Homo sapiens: one gene and its partners. The protein of the gene in region 1 interacts with the protein of each later gene in a pairwise test. Each region holds a gene or a part of one and is shown on either strand. Other genes may lie near its edges. The genes, in order: SULT2B1, FLACC1 and ACYP2.

What was found.
Region 2: the proteins of SULT2B1 (region 1) and FLACC1 interact in binary tests that used the Homo sapiens proteins (3 or more experiments, as listed by UniProt).
Region 3: the proteins of SULT2B1 (region 1) and ACYP2 interact in binary tests that used the Homo sapiens proteins (3 or more experiments, as listed by UniProt).

Annotation. Positions count from the first base shown.
Region 1 is NC_000019.10:48,547,730-48,555,196, forward strand, and holds the start of SULT2B1 (sulfotransferase 2B1), read left to right. Parts: upstream 1-4,442; 5' UTR 4,443-4,523; coding exon 4,524-4,594; intron 4,595-7,467. UniProt on the Homo sapiens protein: Sulfotransferase that utilizes 3'-phospho-5'-adenylyl sulfate (PAPS) as sulfonate donor to catalyze the sulfate conjugation. Responsible for the sulfation of cholesterol.
Region 2 is NC_000002.12:201,354,296-201,361,592, forward strand, and holds the start of FLACC1 (flagellum-associated coiled-coil domain-containing protein 1), read right to left. Parts: upstream 3,051-7,297; 5' UTR 2,687-3,050; intron 1-2,686.
Region 3 is NC_000002.12:54,110,998-54,118,703, reverse strand, and holds the start of ACYP2 (acylphosphatase-2), read right to left. Parts: upstream 3,090-7,706; 5' UTR 3,006-3,089; coding exon 2,948-3,005; intron 1-2,947. UniProt on the Homo sapiens protein: Its physiological role is not yet clear.

The DNA of each region.
Region 1 (7,467 bases):
ATCAATATAGAAATTACCCATGAGATGTTTTATATGCTTTGTATCTCAATTTTGATGCTCAATTTCGAAAAGGTACATTAAAATGGAATTAATTAAATGAAAATTTAATTTCATTTAAATTAATTAAAATGAAATAATTTTTTATTTTTTAAAAATTTTTAAAATGAAATAAAATTAATTCATTTTAATTAATTTAAATTAATTTTAATTTTTTTAAATTAAATTTATTTAAATTAATTAAAATGAAATAAAATGGAAAATTTTCACTTTCTCAGTCACATTGCACATAGGTGCTAAATAGCCACCTATGGCCAGTGGCTTCTGGGATGGACAGCACAGATGTAAGCCATTTACTTACATGTCTTGTTTGTGGACACAATATCAGAGACTGACCCAGAGGAGGTCTCTACAGATATTAGTTGGAAAAATAGACTATTGGATGCCTGGATGAATGGATGAGTGGATGCATGGATGGATGGATGGATGGATGGATGGATGGACGGATGGTCGAATGGATGGGTAGATGGTTGGATGGATGGATGAATGGATGGAGGATGCATAGAAAGATGGATGCATAGATGGCTGGTTGAATGGATACCTGGCTGAGTGGATGAATAGAGGATGGATGGATGGATAGAAGGATGGTTGAGTAGATGCTTGGATGGATGAATGGATAGACAGTGATGAATGGATGGCAGGATGGATGGATGAATGGATAGATGAAGGAATGGTTGGGTGATGGATGAATAAATGGCTGAATGAATGCAGGATGGATGGATAGATGGATGGTTGGATGGTTGGGTGGCTAGATGAATGGATGGAAAATGGATGGATGGGTGATGGATGGCTGGATAGATGGATGGTTGAGTAGATGGTTGGATGGATGAATGGATGGATAGATGATGAATGGATGAAGAGGTGGATGGTTTGATGGCTGATGAATGGATGGAGGGATGGATGGTTGGATGGGTAGATAGATGGATGTTGAATGGATGATTGGATAAGTGGTTGGGTGGCTGAATGAATGGTTGGGTGGATGGTCGGGTGGATGGATGATGGATGAATAGAGGGACAGGTGGATGCATAGATAGAGGGATGAACAGCTGGAGGGATGAATGGATGTATAATCCTTGCTCCTCTCACTACCCATGACCAAGTGGCTCTGGGTTTTCCACTTGCATTTTCCCACACTCTTCATCTTTTTTTTTTTTTTTTTTTAATTGAGACCGAGTCTTGCTCTGTTGCCCAGGCTGGAGCACAGTGGCACAATCTCGGCTCACTGCAATCTCCACCTCCTGGGTTCAAGCAATTCTCTGCCTCAGCCTCCTGAGGAGCTGGGATTATAGGCACCCACCACCACTCCCGGCTAATTTTTGTATTTTTAGTAGAGACGGGGTTTTACTATGTTGGCCAGGCTGGTCTTGAACTCCCGACCTCGTGATCCACCCGCCTGGGCCTCCCAAAGTGCTGGGATTACAGGCATGAGCCACCAAGCCCAGCCCACTCCTTCATCCTTCTGGTCTCGTCCTTGTCTCCCAGATGTCCAAGACCCTCAGATTCATTTCTGGGGGTTGATGGTCTCCACTAGTATCTCTGCACTCTCACAATTGGCTAAAATGTCACTCTGGTGTCTTCTGGTTCCTCCTTGCCACCTCTGTAGGAGTCTGGACCCCTCGCCTTCCAGAATCAGGCTTTTGCATCTCCTCAGCTCCCTCCTCATTCTCCACAGAGATTCAGTGGACTTCTCCTGGCACCACCATGACCTTCACTCATTCCATCACGTCTTCCTGTGACAATTCATTCATTCCATCAACAGGCACTTATTGAGCATTTACTATATTCCAGGCTCTTCCCTTGGGAAATAACCGCAGATTTGACATAGAACAAGCCCTTCTTTCATGGGGTTGACAGTCTAGTGGGGAGATAGATGGTAAACAAGACAAAGAAGCAAAACATTTAGGAGGTCAGATGGTGACGAGTGCTATGGGAAAAAGTAAAACAGGAAAGAGGAATGGAGAAGTTGGTGGACGAGCCTGGGGGAGGTGACACTGGGCAGAGTCAGACGATAGGAGCCCACGAAGCTCCCAGGTATCAGGAACATGCGGGAATAGCAAGGGCAAAGGCCCTGCAGTAGGAGCCTCCCCTGGGTCTTAGGCCGCCTAGTTTGGCCAGTTTCTTTCCATTGCCCACTCAGGCACAACCTCAGGCCCTACTGCTCCCCAACCTTCCTGTGCCCCGGGGATGCCTCCGCACCTGCCTGCGAGTTTCCCTCTCAGGATCCCTAAGGACCTGGGCATTCCCTTCCCCAGACTCTCCCTAACCCCCCACCCCAGCAGCACACAGAGCCAGGGACAAAGGGTCATTGAATAGAAAACAAAGGTGAAGACAGCCCAGCCGGAGGCCTGGTGGGGTGTCATGGTTCAGTCCCCCACCTCCGACATCAGAGGGGTTCACTCAGCCTCAGAGGGGGATGCCTGGCCCTCTCACCCTTCCACCCACCCTGCAAGAGAGCCTTTTTATCAGCAGGAACATCAAGGCTTAACACTGAAAGTATCAAGGCAGAATGTTGAGGATGTGGACTCGGTAGTGGCTGGGGGCAGGGGCGGGTGCTCCCACAGCTCAGCCTCCTGGAGACGGGTCTTGGGGTGGTGAATTGAGAGATGGGATACCCCAGAACCCTCCTTTTCTGCTTACCATCAGAGTGAAGGCGGGCAGTGCTGTGTGCCCTGGGGGAAGCCACATTACCTCTCTGGGCCCCCTTCCTGCATCTGTTAGGTGAGTCTGACGTCTTCCATCCCCCTCACCTATGCAACAATAATTGGTCAGTATATACAATTTTATTTGTTTTGGCTTTTTTTTTTTTTCTTTTTGAGATGGAGTTTCACTCTTGTTGCCCAGGCTGGAGTGCAACAGTACAATCTTGGCTCGCTGCAACCTCTGCCTCCAGGGTTCAAGTGATTCTCCTGCCTCAGCCTCCCGAATAGCTGGGATTACAGGCACCTGCCACCATGCCCAGCTAATTTTTTGTATTTTTAGTAGAGATGGGGTTTCACTATGTTGGCCAGGCTGGTCTTGAACTCCTGACCTCAGGCGATTCACCCGCCTCGGCCTCCCAAAGTGCTGGAATTACAGGCGTGAGCCATTGCACAGGCTTTCTTTTGGCATTTTTTTTTTTTTTTTGAGATGGAGTCTCTCTCTGTCGCCCAGGCTGCAGTGCAGTGATGTGATCTCAGCTCACTCCAACCTCCACCTCCCAGGTTCAAGCGATTCTCGTGTCTCAGCCTCCCAAGTAGCTGGGATTACAGGCACCTGCCACCACTGGTGGGGAGACTGGCTTCATGACTCCAGGACTCTGAGGGGTCAGGGACCAACAGCTGGGGAGGGCCAGGGTTTGGGGTGGGGGCAGAAGAGAAGAGAACACCGTCTATGCTGAGCTCACTGTGTACCAGATCCTCCACCAGCAGCTGAGAGTGTCTCCCTCAGTCCTCACAACAGCCCGATGGGTGCCATTCACAGATGGGGAAACTAAGGCAAGATGAGCCTATGAGCAAGATGGTTCCCGGCCCCACAGCTGGGAGGCACTGGAGCTGGGATTTGAACCAGGGCTGTGACCTTCAGACTCTCACGCCCAACCATATCTGGCAGTTGTCTCTCATATCTGTGTCTCTCCCTGTCCCTGACCTTTCTATGTATCTCTGTCTCTGCCCTCTGTATATCGCTGCTGGGTCTCTCAGGGTCTCTGACCCCTGTGTGTCTCTGTCTCCTCTGGGTGTCCGTGTGTCTCTGTCTCCGCCCTCCGTGTATCTCTGTTGCGTCTCTCAAGGTCTCTGGCCCCTGTGCATCTCAGTCCCCTCCTGGTCTCTGTCTCCCATGCCCTCTGCCCTCTCCCTTTCTCCCTGGCTCCCGCCCTGTCTGTGCTGCCGTGGTCCTGGCTGTGCCTCTGTCCCTGTGTCTGTTTCCAGGGTGCCCCTTACGCGTCAGCCCGTGAGGGCAAGTTTCTGTCTGCCCCTTCCCCAGCGGTGGCCTAGTGCTTGGAACAGCGCCTGGCAGACAGGAGATGCTCAGTAAATATTTCTCAAATGAATAAAGGAATGAATGAGTGAATGAATGAATGAATGAATGAACTCGCTGAGATGGGCGAGATCAGCGCCATTTCCCAAATGAGCAACGTGGGCTCCAGGTGGGTGCCCACAGGCCCAGAACTGCCAGCCCGGAAGGTTCTGGCGTGGGCTTGGCACTGACCCCCTGGACTCTGCCCCCAGCTGAGCACCAGACGCCAGGACGTGCCCATCACTGCTCCTCCCCGCCCTCAGAGCAGGGTGGCTCCCTCTGGCCTCTCCCCGCTGTTGGAGGCGTGGGTAGCAGCTGGGAGAACCGGCTGGGTGCTGCCCCTCCCCTTGGGCCGGGCACGGAGTAGGCACCTGGCGGGCTCCCCAGGTGGCAGACGCTGTCGCTGCGCACACCTGGCCTCTGTGCCGCCTGCTCCCTGCTCGTCCTCCCCTCCCCACCCTCACCCACCTGCCATGGACGGGCCCGCCGAGCCCCAGATCCCGGGCTTGTGGGACACCTATGAAGATGACATCTCGGAAATCAGGTGAGGCCCAGACCTGGGCAGGAGCCAGGAGATCCCAGGGAGGAGGTGGCTGTTTGGGGGAGCCGGGGACTGTGGCAAGGGTGGCCTCCAGCCACCCGCAGCCGCAGGCCTGGCCCAGACTTAGCTGGAGGGGCTGGGCTGGGCTGGGGCATCCAGTGTGGTGTATAGGTCCCTCCTGAGAAGGGAGTGAGGACCCGACCGTGTTGAGTCACCAGTGGGGATGCCTGGGGTGTCCCTGTCGCTCTCCGGGCCTCAGTTTTTCTGTCTGTCAAAGGGGCCCACAAGCCCTGTGTCTCCCTGATAGAGCAGTGGAAGAGAGCAGGCAGCTTGGTGCATAGTAGTTGCTCAGGAAACACAACAGCCTGTAGTACCCAGGACACCCCATGCAAGCCCTGAAATAACGGGGGTGCTTGGGGGTGAAATGGGAGAGACTGGGATGCTGCTGAGACCCCCAGAGGGAGAAGCTGTGTTCTAGGGCACTTGGGGCGGAGAGGGCAGGCTCTGGACTCTTCAGGTCTCCTAACAGTGGTTAGGGCAGAGCACTGCCCACTTCCATGAGCTCAGCGTGACTCCCTCTTCCTGGGGATGAGTCAGACACTTTGACAGTACCTGCTTTCCAGATGGGGAAACTGAGGCTGGGAGGGAACGCGACATGACCGCAATTACGCAGCTAGAAGCAAATCTGAACCCGGTCTGTCTCACGCCAGAGCCTGTGGTTTCTCCTGCTCCTCACAGCCTTGGTGATGTCCCCTTTACACCCCTCCCCGTGGCTCCATCTTTTAGGGGAGCGCAGAGGCCCAGAGAGGGCAGGCAGCCTGCCCCAGATCACACAGCAAACTGCTGAGACAATCTCCAACCCCTCGTATCTTGCACTCTTGCCAAGTGAGACCTTCCTGGCAGCCTGGGCCCCTCCAGCCACCGTGGGCTGTGAGGAGGGAGACAACCAAGACCTGTTCTCAGCCCAGTTGCCTCATTCCTTTCTTATTTTATTTTATTTTTTTGAAATGGAGTTTCGCTCTTGTTGCCCAGGCTGGAGTGCAATGGCACGATATCAGCTCACTGCAGCCTCCGCGTCCTGGGTTCAAGTGATTCTCCAGCCTCAGCTTCCCAAGTAACTGGGATTACAGGAGCCCGCCACCATGCCCGGCTAATTTTATTTTTGTATTTTTAGTAGAGAAAGGGTTTCACCATGTCGGCCAGGCTGTTCTTGAACTCCTTGCCTCAGGTGATCCACCTGCCTCGGCCTCCCAAAGTGCTGGGATTACAGGCGTGGGCCACCACGCCTGGCCGCCTCATTTCATTCCACTGTTTCAGGCCCTCCCCTCCCCTCCCTCAGCCAGAAGCTGGGGCATGAAGAGGCCTTCCTGGGTGCCTGGGACTCCAGAGACAGGAGCAGTTCAATCCTGATTGCTGTGTGACCTAGACAAGCTTCCTGATGTCTCTGGGCCTCCTGGGCTGAGAGCTGTGACCAGGCTGGCCCAGTTCTGCGTGAGGGAGGCCCCAGCATTCTTTACTCAACATTGTCTAATCCAGGACTTCTGAGTTCTGCAATTCTTCTCTCCAGAGATAAACAGATAAGCCAGCTCGCCTCCAGGGTTCCCGCCTCTGGGAAGGCCTCACCCCCACCCCAGCCAGGCACCTGGGAGCCTTTTTTTTATCTCCGCGACGGCTCTGCCAGCTGGTCATAAAACGCCCTGAGTGACCTCGCTAAGTGGGTGACCTTGGTTTAGTCACTGACCCTCTGCGAAGCTCGGTTTCGTCATCGTGGGGGAGAATAGCCCTCCCCTGCAAGACTCCTCCAGCCCTGATGGCTGCAGAGCCCTGGGGGGGTGCCCTTAGGACCTCAAACTTCCAGGCACTTCTGGAATCCCCCAGGCCTGGAAGCGTGCCTCTCCCCAGCGAGCCTGCTGGAGCATCCCCCTGGGGCCCACTTCCTTCGGGATGTGCCCCTCCCAGACCCCCTCAGATACGCCACGTACCCCCCCAGATTCGCACCTCCTCCCAGGTTGCCCATCTCAGGGATGTCCCCTCCCCATCACTGGCTCAGATCCACAGGGCTTCTCCTGGCCCCGACTTCCCCCTCTGCTCGCCCCCAGCCTGTCAGTCCCCAACCCCCACCCCTGTCCCCTGACTCTCTGCCCTGGTTCTTCCTCTCGGTTGCCACAGCCCCAGCTCAGGCCTCCTCATCTCCCCCCAACCTCACCACTCCAGCCTTGGCTGTCCCAGGCTGCTCCTCCCCTCCTCCCAGCCATCCAGTGAATTCCTCAGCGCCCAGCCCTCACCCACCCCGCCCCCCCAGCCTCCTCACCTGCATTCCAGCTACTCTACTGCTTTTTTTTTTTTTTTTTTTTTTTTTTTGAGACTGAATCTGGCTCTGTCACCCAGGCTGGAGCACAGTGGAACGATCTCGGCTCACTGCAACCTCCGCCTCCCAGGTTCAGGTGTATTACCTCATCTAATCCTCACAGCCATCTGAGATGAACCCACTTTGACTGCTGTCATCCTGTGTCAGAGATGAGGCCCAGAGAGGTTGAGTAACTTGCCTAGGGTCACACAGCTGCCAAGCAGGGCACGGCCAGGATTTGAACCAGGGAAGCCTGACTGTTATCATGCCCTGGACAGGGAATTTAGGGATGATGAGCAAGACCAGGAAGGAGCGAGATCCAGGAGGTAGACTCAGCCCAGATGGGAGGTGAAGCGGGCGCTCTGAGGTTCTAGCCTCCGAGTAGCTGGGATGACAGGCGCGTGCCACTGCGCCCAGTTAATATTATTACTATTATTTTTTTGAGACGGAGTCTCACTCTGTCGCCCACGCTGGAGTGCAGTGGCACGATCTCGGCTCACTACAACCTCGGCCTCCCAGGTTCAAGCGA
Region 2 (7,297 bases), on another chromosome or scaffold:
CAGCAGAGGAGTCGGCAGAAAGAGAGCTAAGTGAGCAGTGGAGCAAAGGCAAGAGACCTGGCCTTGGAAGAAAGGCAGCGTGTGCAGGGGTTGGCTGGGCCAGAGGCCTGGGACTAGGGAGTCTTCTGCAATAGAGGTCAGGGCTAGAAAGGAGTCCAGGGCTAGAAAGGAGTCCAGGAGACTGGCTAAACAGCAAAGGCCTGAAGAGCAGGTGACAGGGCCGCCATTTATAACTGTCCATACTCCACTGGGTTTGGGGGCCTGTTAGGGCCAAGTCAAGGAGATGAGGTCAGAGAAGCAGATGGGATCGAGTGCCCAGGTGGGAAGATGATGCTACAAGGGGCTGGAATTCAGGTGAGAGTCTGAAAGAAGGCTACAACAGTAGCAAAAAAGAAACTGCTTCTGCTTAGAACCTTGTATCTGCTTCCTGTACGAAAGGAGCCAACCCTGAACTTGGGAGATTTAGCAGGAGTCCATGGGGCAAGAAGTGAGAGGCTAAGGCAGGCCCACTTCTAGCAACTGCCTTCTCTCTTCTTGAAGGCCAGGACTCCACTATGGAGTGCTCTCTGTGCCTCAACACCTCCACTAAGCCTTGCAAAGTGGCTTGTCCACAACGGGCATTTGATGAATATTTCTTACCTGACTAGTAAACTTAGTGGTTGTAATCAGCTCATCATGGTGGTTGGGGCTAGCTCAACAAAGAGAAAAAGATGGTATGGTGGCTGATGCCTGTAATTCCAGCACTTTGGGAGGCCAAGGCGAGAGGATCACTTGACGCCAGGAGTTCGAGACCAGCCTAGCCAACAGGGCGAAACCCCGTCTCTACTAAAAACACAAAAATTAGCCAGGCATGGTGGCACATGCCTGTAATCCCAGCTACTCGGGAGGCTAAGGCAGGAGAATCACTTGAACCTGGGAGGTGGAGGTTGCAGTGAGCCGAGATCTCACCACTGCACTCCAGCCTGGATGACAGAACAAGACTCTGTCTCAATAAATAAATGAATAAAACAAAAAACAAAAACAAAGAGAAAAGAGATTCACAGATGAAACTGCCAAAATGTTGTAATCGTCATTACCATATTATAAATAACATTAAACATTTGCATTCAAAAGCCAGAAAGCAGAGGTAAATTGTATGGGTGATACAATCACTCAGTGGAGTTTTACATAGATTTTCAATGATCTTTGATGAATGTGTAGTTGTTTCCTTTTCCTCTTTCCCATGATAAACAATGTCTTGGTATATATTCTTTTGCTCTTAAGAAAAAAAAAAAAGAAGGCCTCACAGGTGTGGTGGCACATGTCTGTAATCCCAACACTTTGAGAGACTGAGGTGGGAGAGTCGCTTGAGGCTAGGAGTTTGAGACCAGCCTGGGAAACATATCGAGACTCTGTATCTACAAAAAATTTTAAAAATAGCCTAGTATGGTGGAGTGTGCCTGTAGTCCCAGCCACTTGGCAGGTGGTGCGGGAGGATCACTTGAGGCCAGGAGTTTGAAGTTGCAGTGAGCTAGGACCACACCACTGCATTTCAGCCTGGGTGACAGCACAAGACCCTGTCTCTAAAAAATAAATAAATAAATAAAATAAAAATAAAGGCCTTTTTCTTTGAACACCCATGGGAGTGATACTCAAAATATTTAACAACCAGTAAGACAAGGCTATTGAATAATCAACCAGGGTTGGAACAGGGTCCTGGGAGATCTCACTCCCACCTCCATGCCAGGCATTAACCCCTTAGTTGCTGAATCATGAGGTGGTCTGGGGGTGCCAGGGGAGGAGTTGGGACAACCAAGGTGGCAAGGAGGACATGCAAGGGGCTTGGACAATGGTCATCTACCAATCAATATGACAGTATTTTATTTATTATTATTATTGTTTTGAGACGGAGTTTTGCTCTTGTTGCCTAGGCTGGAGTGCAATGGTGTGGTCTTGGCTCACTGCAACCTCTACCTCCGAGGTTCAAGCGATTCTCCTGCCTCAGCTTCCCCAGTAGCTGGAATTACAGGCACCCGCCACCATGCCTGGCTAATTTTTGTATTTTTATAACGATGGGGTTTCACCATATTGGCCAGGCTGGTCTCAAACTCCTGACTTCAGGTGATCCACCCATCTCAGCCTCCCAAAGTGCTGGGATTACAGGTGTGAGCTACCGTGCCCTGCCTATATGGCAGTATTTTAATATTTCAGTAGCTAAAATCAGCCCTTGACTTCTCATAGCTTCTTAAGTGGGAACTACTTCTAACAGATTTTTGGGGCATCCTTCCAGAAATGTTGTGAGTGCATATAACCTTAAATGTTTTGCATATAGAACTTAACCTGTAGAGAAGCATAATAGATTTTTTAAATTATTTGCATAAGTGAGAGCATACTTTGCACACAATGTTGCATCTTGTTCTTTTTGTGTAACAGGATATCTAGTTGATATTTCCATGTCATCACAGATAGATCTGCATTTACAGTGGCTTGACATCATATAGCTCTAATTATAGAGGGGTGTGTGAGTGTGTGTAAGGATTTTTTCTCCCCCTTTTTTCCCTTTCCTGCACTTCTACCTGATGATTTTACCTGAGGCTTGCCCTAACAATAGTCACCAGTGAGCCGGCAGAGGCTTCAGAGAAGTTACTGGTTAGTATTAATAATCAGTAGAAAAAATAATATAAAACATCTTTTCCAAAGAGCTTACCTTGGACTGCCCAAAGATCTGTTATTCTCATGTGGCCCAAGTCAAACATCTTAAAGAAACCACCATGTTAGAGAGAAATGGTTCCCCATCAACACAGAATCAGAGTTTACTTTAGATCAAAAGCCACTTTAGTGGCCATTCCAAGTGGTTGAAATGCCGAAGGAGAAAATTCACAGTATATGTACTGCGGGAAGACAGACTTCTAGTGAATCCAATCAAAGGCTTTTACAAAGGCTGGCCTGGCACAAACATGAATTTCCCTTCTAAAGACAAAACAGTTGAAGTTTCTCAGTATTGCAATGAAATTAAACTAGAGGAGAAGGTCACCCCACCATTCAGATTCCTGTGACTTGGGCCTGAGTTGTGAGGTTTGCCCTTGGGAGATGGCAGGCCAAAGTTTGTTTATTTTGTTGCTATGGACACAGAACAGTAGCTCCTCATTGGCTCAGGGCTCTTTTCTTCAAGAGAGAAGGTTGGGAGAAACAGCCAATTAAATTCTCCAAGACACAAATCAGTGACCACCCTCAACAGCAAAGAATTCATACTTTTAACACTGGATTTCCACTTTCGTCATCAGTCATGGGACAAAAAAGTTTAAGATATATCTTCAGAGGAAATAGAATTCAACAGCACTTTTAGGCTTCATTGGTCTATGGCAATAGTTACCAGGCAGGATCTGTGATGGATTTTTAATTCCTCTGTGATCTACTCACAGAAACCTAAAACTCTAGACACTTTTTTCCCTCGAGTTTAAGGCTTTGAAATCTGTGAAAGTAAAAATCCCCCAAGGCAGGAATCTTTTGCAGTCACAAGGTTTTCCGATTTTTTTTTTTAAATAAAGCTGCTTTTTCTTACTATAGAAAAAAGTACTTGCTTATTACAACCCAGTGGCTTTCATTTTAGTTTTACTGCCACTCATTATAAGAAATACATTTTACAAATTTTGTAATAAAAAAATTTCATGAAATAATACTCTTATTATTTGCTATTCTCTTCTATTTCTTTTTCTTCTTTAAATTAAAGCTGATTATAATCCACTAGATTGATTTCATGATCCTGGTGGGTCACAACCCCTAGCTTACAAAATATTGTTATAAATTCATCTATTCACTCAACTTCACATTTGTTGTCTACTGTGTGCCAGGCACTATTGCTAGGTGTGGGGATATACCTCAGTTCTTATACTCAATACAACTTAGAGACCAATGAGAAAACAGACAATAAAAAAGCTCAATAAAAGCATAATTAATTTTTTTTTCCTTTGAGACAGTAGCTCACTCTGTTACCCAGGCTGCGGTGCAGTGGCAGTGGCAGTGCAGGCTGCATGCATAGCTCACTGCAGCCTTGACCTCCTGGACTCAAGCGATCCTTCTGCCTCAGACTCCCAAGTAGATGGGACTACACAGGTGCACAGCACCATGCCCAGCTAATTTTTTTTTTTTTTTTTTTTTTTGAGACGGAGTCTCGCTCTGTCACCCAGGCTGGAGTGCAGTGGCGGGATCTCGGCTCACTGCAAGCTCCGCCTCCCGGGTTCACGCCATTCTCCTGCCTCAGCCTCCCAAGTAGCTGGGACTACAGGCGCCCGCCACTACGCCCGGCTAATTTTTTTGTATTTTTAGTAGAGACGGGGTTTCACCGTTTTAGCCGGGATGGTCTCGATCTCCTGACCTCGTGATCCGCCCGCCTCGGCCTCCCAAAGTGCTGGGATTACAGGCGTGAGCCACTGCGCCCGGCCGCCCAGCTAATTTTTTTGACTTTTAGTATACATGAGGCCTTGCTATGTTGTCCAGGCTGGTCTTGTACTCCTGAATTCAAGTGATCCTCCTGCTTCGGCCTCCCAAAGTGCTGGGATTACAGGTGTAAGTCACCATGCAGCCACAATGACTCATATTGAGACTTGCCAGAAGCAGTGGGAGTTCATAGCAGGAGTTACTCTTCTAGTCCAGTGAGTCAGGCAGCAGTGTTAAACAGAGAAGAGATCTGACTAGATCTACATATCAGAAAGATCATTCTGACTGCAATATAGGGAAGCAATTGGAAGGGCCAGGAAAACCAGGTAAAAGTCTGTGGCAGTGGTCGTCATGGGACCTGACGATGGCCCTGACTGAGGAGCAGCAGTGGGGATGGAGAGAAGACATGATAGAACTTGGTGATTGACTGGATGCTGGGATGAGCGAAAAGGAGAAGGTGATGATTCCTGGCTTTCCAGCTCGAGCAATTGAGTTGACCGTGGTGCCATTTATTGAGATAGGAAAGTGTGGAGGGATAAACAGGTTCTAGGGAGCAGATTATTAGTTCAGTTTTGGATATGTTGAGGTGCAGGGAGACTAATAGACAAGTGGTGACGTCTGTTAGAGTTTCTTACATATTTTAGAAGTTCAGAGGAAGATTCTGGCCTAGAAGCAGATTTAGGAGTCTTCAGAGTGGATACTATTCCAAGCCAAGGGAGCGAGTGAGATCACATATAGAGAGAGTATTGTGTAAGGAGAGAAGAGGGTCTAGAACAGAGCTCTGAGGACACCAGTATTTACGACAAGATTTCTCAGTGTGGGCCATGTGTAGTTAAAATGCATAGACCTGTTGCTTGATTGCAAGTGGCTTACATCAAAGAGGTTTATTAACCTCATGAAATAGAGTCTGGAGGCAGTGCTATCAGAGTTGGTGCAAAGATTCAGCAATGTCCTTGGAGAACTGGGCTCTTTCCATCTCTCTGTTATGCCAGCCTCGGTGTGTTGATGGAGGGAAGCGTCTTGGTTGCACTATGGCTGCTTCAACTCTGAGCACCATGAACAGGCTAGATGAAGAGAGACTTTCAAAGATTAAAAGGAGGGAAATAACTTAGAGAAGAATTGATAGACTCTATTAGTCATCTAGACAATCTGTCTCCATCCAGAGATTGAATATTTACTTTGAGTGTGTTTAATGTGTAAAATTTTATATTTAAATCCTTTCTTATGATTAAAAAAAAAAAGCAGCAGGATTTGGGTCTTGAGTGAAGCATGGCTAAAAACAGAGATACAGAGGAAGTAAGTGCTGAAGGAATACCCCAGCCACTCGACTTGGCAAAGGCTCAGCACTAATTACTACTACTTGGGTATCCCCATTCTCCTTTCATCTTTTTGGACATGAGTAAAGCTTCGCCAGTTCCAAAACAGCTGAGGAGAAGGAAATGAAGGTGTTTAGGGGCTAAGTGTTAAGTGCTCTTCTCTTGGATGAAATTGGGGAAGTGCTGGCATTCTCAGTAACTTCGCCTAAAGCAAAGTGTCTTACTATTTGGAACAGAGGTGGAGGAGGCCACCAATAGTAAAACAAAGTATAAGTTGAAAAATGAATGAGAGAAACTGCAACTTAATTCTGACAGCAATATTATCAAAATTGGTCTGCACAGGGCTTGGGGAAATAGATATCCTCTTGTGTGATGCTGCAGCATTCACGAAGTGGCAAACATGGTCAGCTGGGAGCATTCGGAGGCTTTCCATCTGTGGAGCGCTATTTGTGGCTCTATGAGAACACTCCCAGTGTGGAAAAGACAGTGTTCTCTTAAGAAGCTTGTAATTATCTCCAACTTGCTCACTTGCTCAACTCTCTTTGATCTTTGGCTTTCAACATCTGACTTTAGAGTGGTGCTATGCTAACTCCCATGGATCATCCTGAATAGACCCGACCAGGTAGCCACAGGAATCCCGTGAAAGCCTGTAGTGCTACCCTTGCACCTAGAAAGAGGGGCCACTGTTCTGAGCCCTGGGCTTTAGAGGGCTCTGCATAGGACAGGCACACACAGAAACCTACATTTGTTCAAGAATACGTGGGCCCGGGCTGGGTGCAGTGGCTCATGCCTGTAATTCCAGCACTTTGAGAGGCCAAGGTGGGTGGATCAACTGAGGTCAGGAGTTTAAGAACAGCCTGGTCAACATGGTGAAACCCCGTCTCTACTAAAAATAAAAAAATTAGCTGGGTGTGGTGGTGCATGCTTGTAGTCCCAGCTACTCGGGAGGTTGAGGTGGAAGAATTGTACAAACCCAGGAGGCGGAGGTTGCAGTGAGCCAAGATCGTGCCACTGCATTCAAGCCTGGATGATAGAGCAAGACTCCATCTCAGAAGAGGAAGAAAACAAAAACAAAAACAAAAACACACGGGCCCTTGATCTGGAGCTCAGCTCTGAAACAGCAGGAACCATAACCCTAAAGATTCACTCTCATCATTAACCACATTCAGGTCTCAGGGAATGCTTCACCACATCTTTTACCCTTTACCTTCAAAACAAAAGATGACTGTGCCCAAATACTGTAAAGGTTTGTGGGTGATGCTGCTGCTGAGATCAGACACAGACACTGCTTTGGAGTGCAGGAAAGACTGGGGCAGCAGCAGTAAGGTAAGAGGAAAGGTAACCTGTCAAAACCTCTCAGATAGCATGAATGCAAGATTTGTGCATAATGAAATATATTTTCCAGTGGTGCTGAGCACCCATTTTTTGCTTCTTTTAATGCCTTAATTTGCAATTCCACAGGTATTCGCATACAGGAATGGTATTTGCAAGAGCTACATATGGTGGCTGAAGAACATTGTGCAATATGCATCCTGAGTACCCTTACATTTATATATATGTAGATC
Region 3 (7,706 bases), on another chromosome or scaffold:
GTTTCTCTTTTCCATATTTTTACTGCTGGTCCAAATTGATTATATACCGTGTTACCACTATGTGCACAAAAGTGGAATTGTATAGTTAATAGAAATATATAATGTAATAGCAGATAACATCTTATAATGGGAAAGCACAACTTTTAAAGTCAGAGAGATGTAGAATCAAATCCCATTTGTCAACTAAGGGCTTGTCCAAGTTACTGAATCTCTGTGCACCTGTTTTGTCCTTGTTAAAACAGGAATAAGACATGCATCTCACAAAATTGTGATGATTAAGTAAACAACAGTGAAATGCTCAGCACAAAGAACACCCATAATAAATGTCACACATTCACACACACACACAGACTCCTTCACTACTGCCATTTGTCTCTAGTGGACCATTCTGTCAGGTGATCTTTGCCACCACTTTCGTATTTTACATTACGTGTTTTGGTGACTTATTGTGGCAGTTTTCAAAGCAGGATAACATACCGCTGGGTTCACTCAAAGACTTTCTAAAGAGTACAGATCCATGCATAATGTTCAGGGAATCAATTTCCAGATCTTCAACTTCCACATATATTCCTTCCTAAAACTGACCTGAGACTCCTTTCCTACCTCCCTTTGCACAATCATCCTTTGAAAGAAAGGTCTCCTGTTATCCTAAGTGAAGTAACTCATGAATGGAAAACTAAACATTCTATGTTCTCACTTCTAAGTGGGAGCTAAGCTATAAGGATGCAAAGGCATAAAAGAATGATACAATGGATTCTGGGGAGTCAGGGGGGAAAGGGTAGGACGGGGTGAGGGACAAAAGGCTACACATTGGGTACAGTGTAAACTGCTTGGGTGATGGATGCACCAAAATCTCAGAAATCACCAGTAATGAACTTATTCATGTAATCAAACACCACCTGTTCTCCAAAGACCTATAGGAAATAAAAATAAAATTAAATTAAAAAAAGATCTCTTTACAAAAGGCACACTTTTACCCATTCTTAATCTTACCCTGGTACACTGCACCAAAGTGTAAAAACCTCTAGAGTACCAAATACAAGGATAATTCAACTCTTCCACCAACCGAGGTTCCATAAACACCCCCAGTCTTCTCATTAATAAATTTCTGGCTGAGTGCAGTGGCTCACGCCTGTAATCCCATCACTTTGGGAGGCGAAGTGCAGGAGGATCCCTTGAAGCCAGGATTTCGAGACTTGCCTGGGCAACAGAGACCCTTTCTCTACAAAAAAATTTTAAAAATTAGTCATGCATGGTGGCATGAGCCTGTAGTCCCAGCTGCTTAGAAGGCTGAGGCAGAAGATCACTTGAGCCCAGGAGTTCCAGGCTGCAGTGAGCTATGATTGTGCCATTGCACTTGCTCCAGTCTGGGTGACAGAGCAAGACTCCATCTCTTAAAAAAATAAAATTAAAAAAATAAACTTCTAACACAAATTTACCTTTAAATTTTAATAATGTTTATCATACTTTTTATATTTTCATCTAGTGTTCTAATAATAATTTCAATAATAACTCCATCCAGACAAAAAATTTAATACTTGGAGCTGTTGAATACAATGAGTTCTAAATTTCTCTTCAAAGAATCAGTATGTCAGTATGCTCGGTTCTTTGCGCTCTAAAGTCTAGCTTCCTCGTTCTCCTCGCCTCTAGTTTCAGTAAACAACCTTTTCCACCAGTTCTAATCAGTAGTTCACCTCTATTCCTCTGGTCACCTGCTCCATCCTGAGTCACCCCTGGTCACCTGCTCTGACCTGAATCATCCTGAGTCACCTGTTCTGTAACCACCCTTCCTGCCAAATTATTCACCCCGCCACTTGAGCTCGTACGCCTGCTCTTTAAAATAGCCAGTCGGAATTAGCTTAGACTGTGCGGTCCAACCCTAGCCAGTAGGGGAAAGACACAGCAGTAGAGGCTACCTGCATCAGGAATAAGAACCCCTTCCCCTCCCCTGTTCAGGTGTGCCGTTGCCATTGCTTCATCCGCGAGTCGCACCCTTCTATAGAGGTAAAATTGCCTTGCTGAGAAAATTCTTTGAGCGCTAGTTCTTCTTTTTGGCACCAAAGAACCAGCATTTGTTTCTAAGAGAGCCTTATTGTCAAAGGAAATTAAGAAAAAGCATTACACTTATTCATACATGTGCATATATGTACATATACATATTGCAGAAAAGTATGATAGGGTGAGCAAAAAAAAAAAAAAAACCCTCAAGCAAAACAATGGGGTAATTCGGTGGGAAAAGTGAAATGAAAATCAAATTCAAAGAGGAAAAGAAATGAGTAAAATTTCCCATTGTTGAAGAGTTTTATTTTAAATGAAGATGGTGGATGTTAAATCACTACCCTATTTATATTCCATTGCATAAATCTCAGAGTGACTTAATATTTTCATTTATAAATATCAATATTTTCAACAAGCCAGACATTACAAACTTGGCAACTACTTAAACTTAGGATGAAACAAAAATTAGATAACAATTTCATTCTTTTAAGAGCTACAAAGAGGTCTAAAAAAAGGTTTGACCTCTGAAAAATTAACCTTAAACCATCTAAGTGTCCTTCCTAAAACTCAAGTCAAGCCCAGGTAGCTTCAGTGGCAAGCAACGAGACCACTAGTTAAAAGACCCTCTTCTTTTCCTACCCAACTTCAACATTCCCCCGTGCCGCTTACTCCCGCACCCAGCAGCCGCCCACTTCTGGTCCTCAGCAGTCCCCTGACCCCTCCTCTCCCGCTCCCCCACTTCCCTCCCCATTCCCGTACTTCCGCCCGTCCAAGTCCTCGGGCGCATGCGCGTTTCGCCTCCCTCCCCGCCGCCGCTGCTGTGTCATGGCGGAGCGGAAGTCCCAGCCACAACGGGAAAAGGCATACTTTAGGTGGGAGGCGCTTCTCACAGCTTTCTCCCCTTCCTCCCATAACCTTTTTGATCTCCCACCGTAGAGGGGCCTCCTACCCTGCACTCTTCCGAACACCTCGTAGTCCACGGATTTGAGTGACTGGGCGGTAGACATGGCGGCGGCGAGCCCTCTGTTGAGGAGCCGGAGAGGGGCTCGGGGCGCAGCGACTGCGGCGGCTGCGAGAGGGAGGGGACACATGGGACTGCTTGGCGCACCCCGCGCCTGTCACCGGTCCCGGACGCTAGCGCGCCGGGGTCACGCGTCGGAAGCGGCAAATGAGACTGCGGGGCCTGGGAGCGAGGGCAGCCGGGGACGCCAGGAGGGAAGAGGCCGCTGGGCCCCAGGCATCCTAGGCCTCTCTTCCCGGACTGGGGAGGATGCTGTCTCCACAGCGCTCCCTACCATTTAATTGATCAAGGTACTCTGTTCTCAAAGTTAGTAAATAAAAGCCGGATGCTGTGCCCAAAAAAAGAGTGGCTTCCCCCAGCTTTATTAAAGTGTAATTGACAAATAAAAGTTGGGTATATTTGTGGTGTACAAGGTGATGTTTTGACATATGTATGCATTGTGAAATGATTACATCAATGAAATTAACGTATCCATTGCACCATTTTTTAATGAAGAGAACATTTAAGATCTACTCTCATCAATTTTTAAGGACACAATACATTTATCGCAGTCACCATGTTAGACAACAGATCTTCAGAACTTATTATTCACACTAACTGAAACTTTGTACCCTTTGACCAATATCTCCCCATTTCCAACCCCTTTCATCCCCCATCCCAGGTCCCCCACCCCACTCCATCCCAGCAAGATTGGCTTTTGAAATCAAGGGCCTGCGTGTTTAGTGTTTTGAGAGTTAGTAAATTATTTATGAAATGTTTAGGTGACTACCAAGCCAGCTTTTAAGATAAGGTCTGCAACATCTTGAGCTCTTCTGTACAGTCAGGAAGGAATTGAGCCTGAACTCGTATTCTAAACGGATTGTGATATTTTCTGGGATAAGAAACTTTTTAAAAATATGAAGTCTTTTATGCTAGTGGAAACAGACAAAAGAAAAACACTGTAGTCATCTTGTCTGCTGTTCATACAGTTTTTTTGGTGTGGGTTTGTTGCTGTTGTTTTGAGACGGAGTTTCGCTCTTGTCTCCCAGACTGGAGTGCAGTAGTGCAATCTCAGCTCACAGCAGCCTCCACCTCCCAGGTTCAAGAAATTGTCCTGCCTCAGCCTTCCAAGTAGCTGGGATTACAGGCATGCGCCACCTCACCCAGCTAATTTTTGTATTTTTAGTGGAGACGGGGTTTCACCATGTTGTCCAGGCTAGTCTCAAACTCCTGACCTCAGGTGATCCACCTGCCTCGGCCTCCCAAAGTGCTGGGATTACAGGTGTGAGCCACCACACCCGACCTTTTTTTTTTTTTTTTTTTTTGATTGTCTTGATTATTCTCAGCAACATCCCAATTGCCTAGAAGGTTAAGGCTGAATTTTATTTCCTGGTGAGCTATTACCAAGTTTTAATATAAAACCATCCACCACTCCAAAGGATCTGGATACAGCTATTGATAATCTGCCACCTTCTAGAATTCCAAATCTGTTTACTTGTGAGAATTTGCATTTCTCTATTTGTTGGCCTCAATACCTTGGCATATTTCTCTGCATCTGGCCACACAGTTAAAATAATCCACTGCAATCTGATTCAATATACTGTGCCAATTCTATTAGAGAACACCAAAAATCATCCAAAACTTGGTTAGAATATGGTTAAATCATTTTTAAAGTAAAATATATTCTGGAAATGCTAGTGCAGTTAATTTATGTAGTGAAGGTCTTAGTTTATTGCAGAGACCTCGTAACTTAACTCTTCCATCTCCCAGTTCATTCCATGCAGACTCTAGAATCAACATAAATTTTAAATCATTCTTCTTAATACGTTCAAAATAGAACCTAAGGTCTTCAGCCTCCACTACCTGCTTATGCAAATCCTGCATTTAAACTATAGTCAAGACACTCTCGGTTATTCTGCTCTCTCAGTACAGAGGTTTAAAACAAAGAACCTCTTCTCTTGGGTCTACTCTATCTGGAATGCCTCCCCCTTCTCCAAAATCTTCCTCTATCCCGCTCAGTCATCTCTGCGAGTGGTTACCAGATTTTATCCTAGTTATTTAGTGTGCCTTCCCCACTAGTACAGTCAGCCATCCATATTAGCAGGTTCTGCATCCATAGATTCAACCAACCTCAAACAGAATTTTTTTTTTTAAGTATCTTGGCCTGCACGGTGGCTCACACCTGTAATCCCAACATGTTGGGAGGCCAAGGCTGGCGAACAGCTTGAGCCCAGGAGTTAGAGATGACCAGCCTGGACAATACAGTGAAGCCCCGCCTCTATAAAAAATACAAAAATTACCTGGCTGTGGTGGCCTGTGCCTGTAGTCCCAGCTACTTGGGAGGCTGAGGTGGGAGTAGGATCACTTTTGCCCAGGAGGCAGAGGTTGCAGTGAACCGAGATGGGGCCACTGCACTCCAGCCTGGGTGACAGAGCGAGACCCTGTCTCCAAAAAAAAAAAAAAAAGTCATCTCTACTGAACTCATGCAGACTCTTGTTTCTTGTCATCATTCCCTGAACAATACAGTATAATAGCATTTACATCGCATTAGGTATTTTAAATAATCTAGAGATGACTTAAAACATACAGGACAATATGTGTATGTATGTTTCTATTAGGAACTTGAACATTCCAGGATTTTTATATCCAAGGGGATTCCTGGAACCAATCCCCTGCAGATAACAACGGACAACTATAGCATAGCTTCTAAGTAGTCACTGACTGGGAAGGTTGACATTTTCCTTTTCTTAATCTTTGACTTTTCTCCACATTTACCCAAGAGTACCCCTGCCAATTATTAGGTAGGTTTATTTGAATTTTAGAAGTGCTATAGCAACAATTGACATTTGCTTAGCTGAAAAATTTGCTGTGTCTGCCAGCAGTCTAACATTAGCAAACGGAAATTTTTATGTACCATTTCGGCATGGATTGCCAATAATATGTGATTCTAAGTCTTTAGAAAATGTACGCAAATGTTTCTAATATATGTTTTAAGTAATTATAGTATGAATGCAACTTTTATTCTTCTTTTCCATGTTGTAGTCTTTCCAATGAATATTTTAATAAATCACATTAGGTGGATAAACCACACATTTACCTACTGTGAGTCCCTGTTGTTACATATTCAGGCTGCTTCTCATTTTTCACTACCATAAAAAAGAAAATATTTATGCATGTAGCTTCCTTCCCACATATTTTTAATTGAAGTTGGAATATCAAATCAAGGGTATAAGCATGTATTGTTCTTGATATATATTGCCAAACTGTTTTTCGAAGGGCTGTGCCAATTTAAATATATTACTACCAAGACTGTATATGATTATTTGGCTTTTTATACAAACAAATGTATGCAGGTCCTTCACGTACAATGCATGATTAAATTATATGAAGCTTTGGTTTTGTAACCTGAGCAACAGCTTTGGAATAACTAGGCTTTGTGTTACTACTGGTTGAAATTAAAACCTGTTAATTCCCTTCTTTGAACCCTTTAAGACAATTGGTTTGTGATCTAGGATCATGTTTAAGGTAATACATAGAAAGGGAAAATCCTGCTTATATAATATGACTGTAAAAGATGACCAGGCACCAGAATCTGTAAAATAAGCATAGATAATACACATTTACATGTGTGTATTATCTATATATGACAATAATACATATGATAGATAATACACATCTCTATATGTGTATATCTAATAAGGATAGATAATACACAGAACCTGTGAAATAAGGATAGATAGTACTCTGTGTCCAAATGACATTTGAAGTGAGGAGGTACCGCCTGTAACTCTCAAATTCATCACCACATGGGGTCATTTGAAAGTGATTGCTAGAGTTATTTCTCAGAAATTTGATATTAAGATATGATTGATTTTAAGGACAAGCAAAATTACTTTATCCATCGGCATATTTCTATCCCTGAAATATTTTTGTAATCATTATGTTGAAAGTGCAGGACCCAACATGATACAAATTGTTAACTTCCATTCAATGATTCCCTGTGGAAGGAATACTTTATAGGTAAAATAAATGCTTAATTATTACTAAACTGGATTCAAAATTATTAGACAGCAGACTGTTGGTCAGCTGAGCAAGTAGCTGGTTTCCCAGAAGAGGCTTTAATCTTATTACAAGTTATCAGAAAATTGCTTAAGCGTTCTATCAGCAAAGCAGATTTCTTTCCAGAAGGAGATTCTGTCCCAGGTTTGAACCAATTTTTCTTTGTCACAGTCCAATTTAATATTAAAAAGTCAGAAGGATATGTAACATTAAAGTGTCTTCCCTCTCCCAGCTTGGTACTGAGTATGCTGAAGTGAGGAGAGGGCATGGTTGGTCCCCCCCGCCCTTGCCTTAGTTTCCCCCTACCTAGCTGAAAATGGGAACAAACAAGTACTTTTGAAATCCATTTAGGCTCTCTGGGAATGGTGAATATTCAAAGCTGACTACTTATTTTGCAGGATTCTTTTTGTAGGGACTCAGAGCTTCACCCCACTTGGAATTCTTGACTGCTGCTCCCTTGTTAGGCTATGCCAGTTCTCTCTACAGCCGTATCCCAGCTTCTGTATTAAGTGCCCCATCCCAGCTTCTGTATTAAATGCTACACCTCCAACCTCTTTCTGCTGAAAGAGACTAGCCCCCAGCAAGAAGGCCATCTGGGTGGGATCCATTTTAAACTGACCACAGGACCACATCCCTCCCTCCCATCATA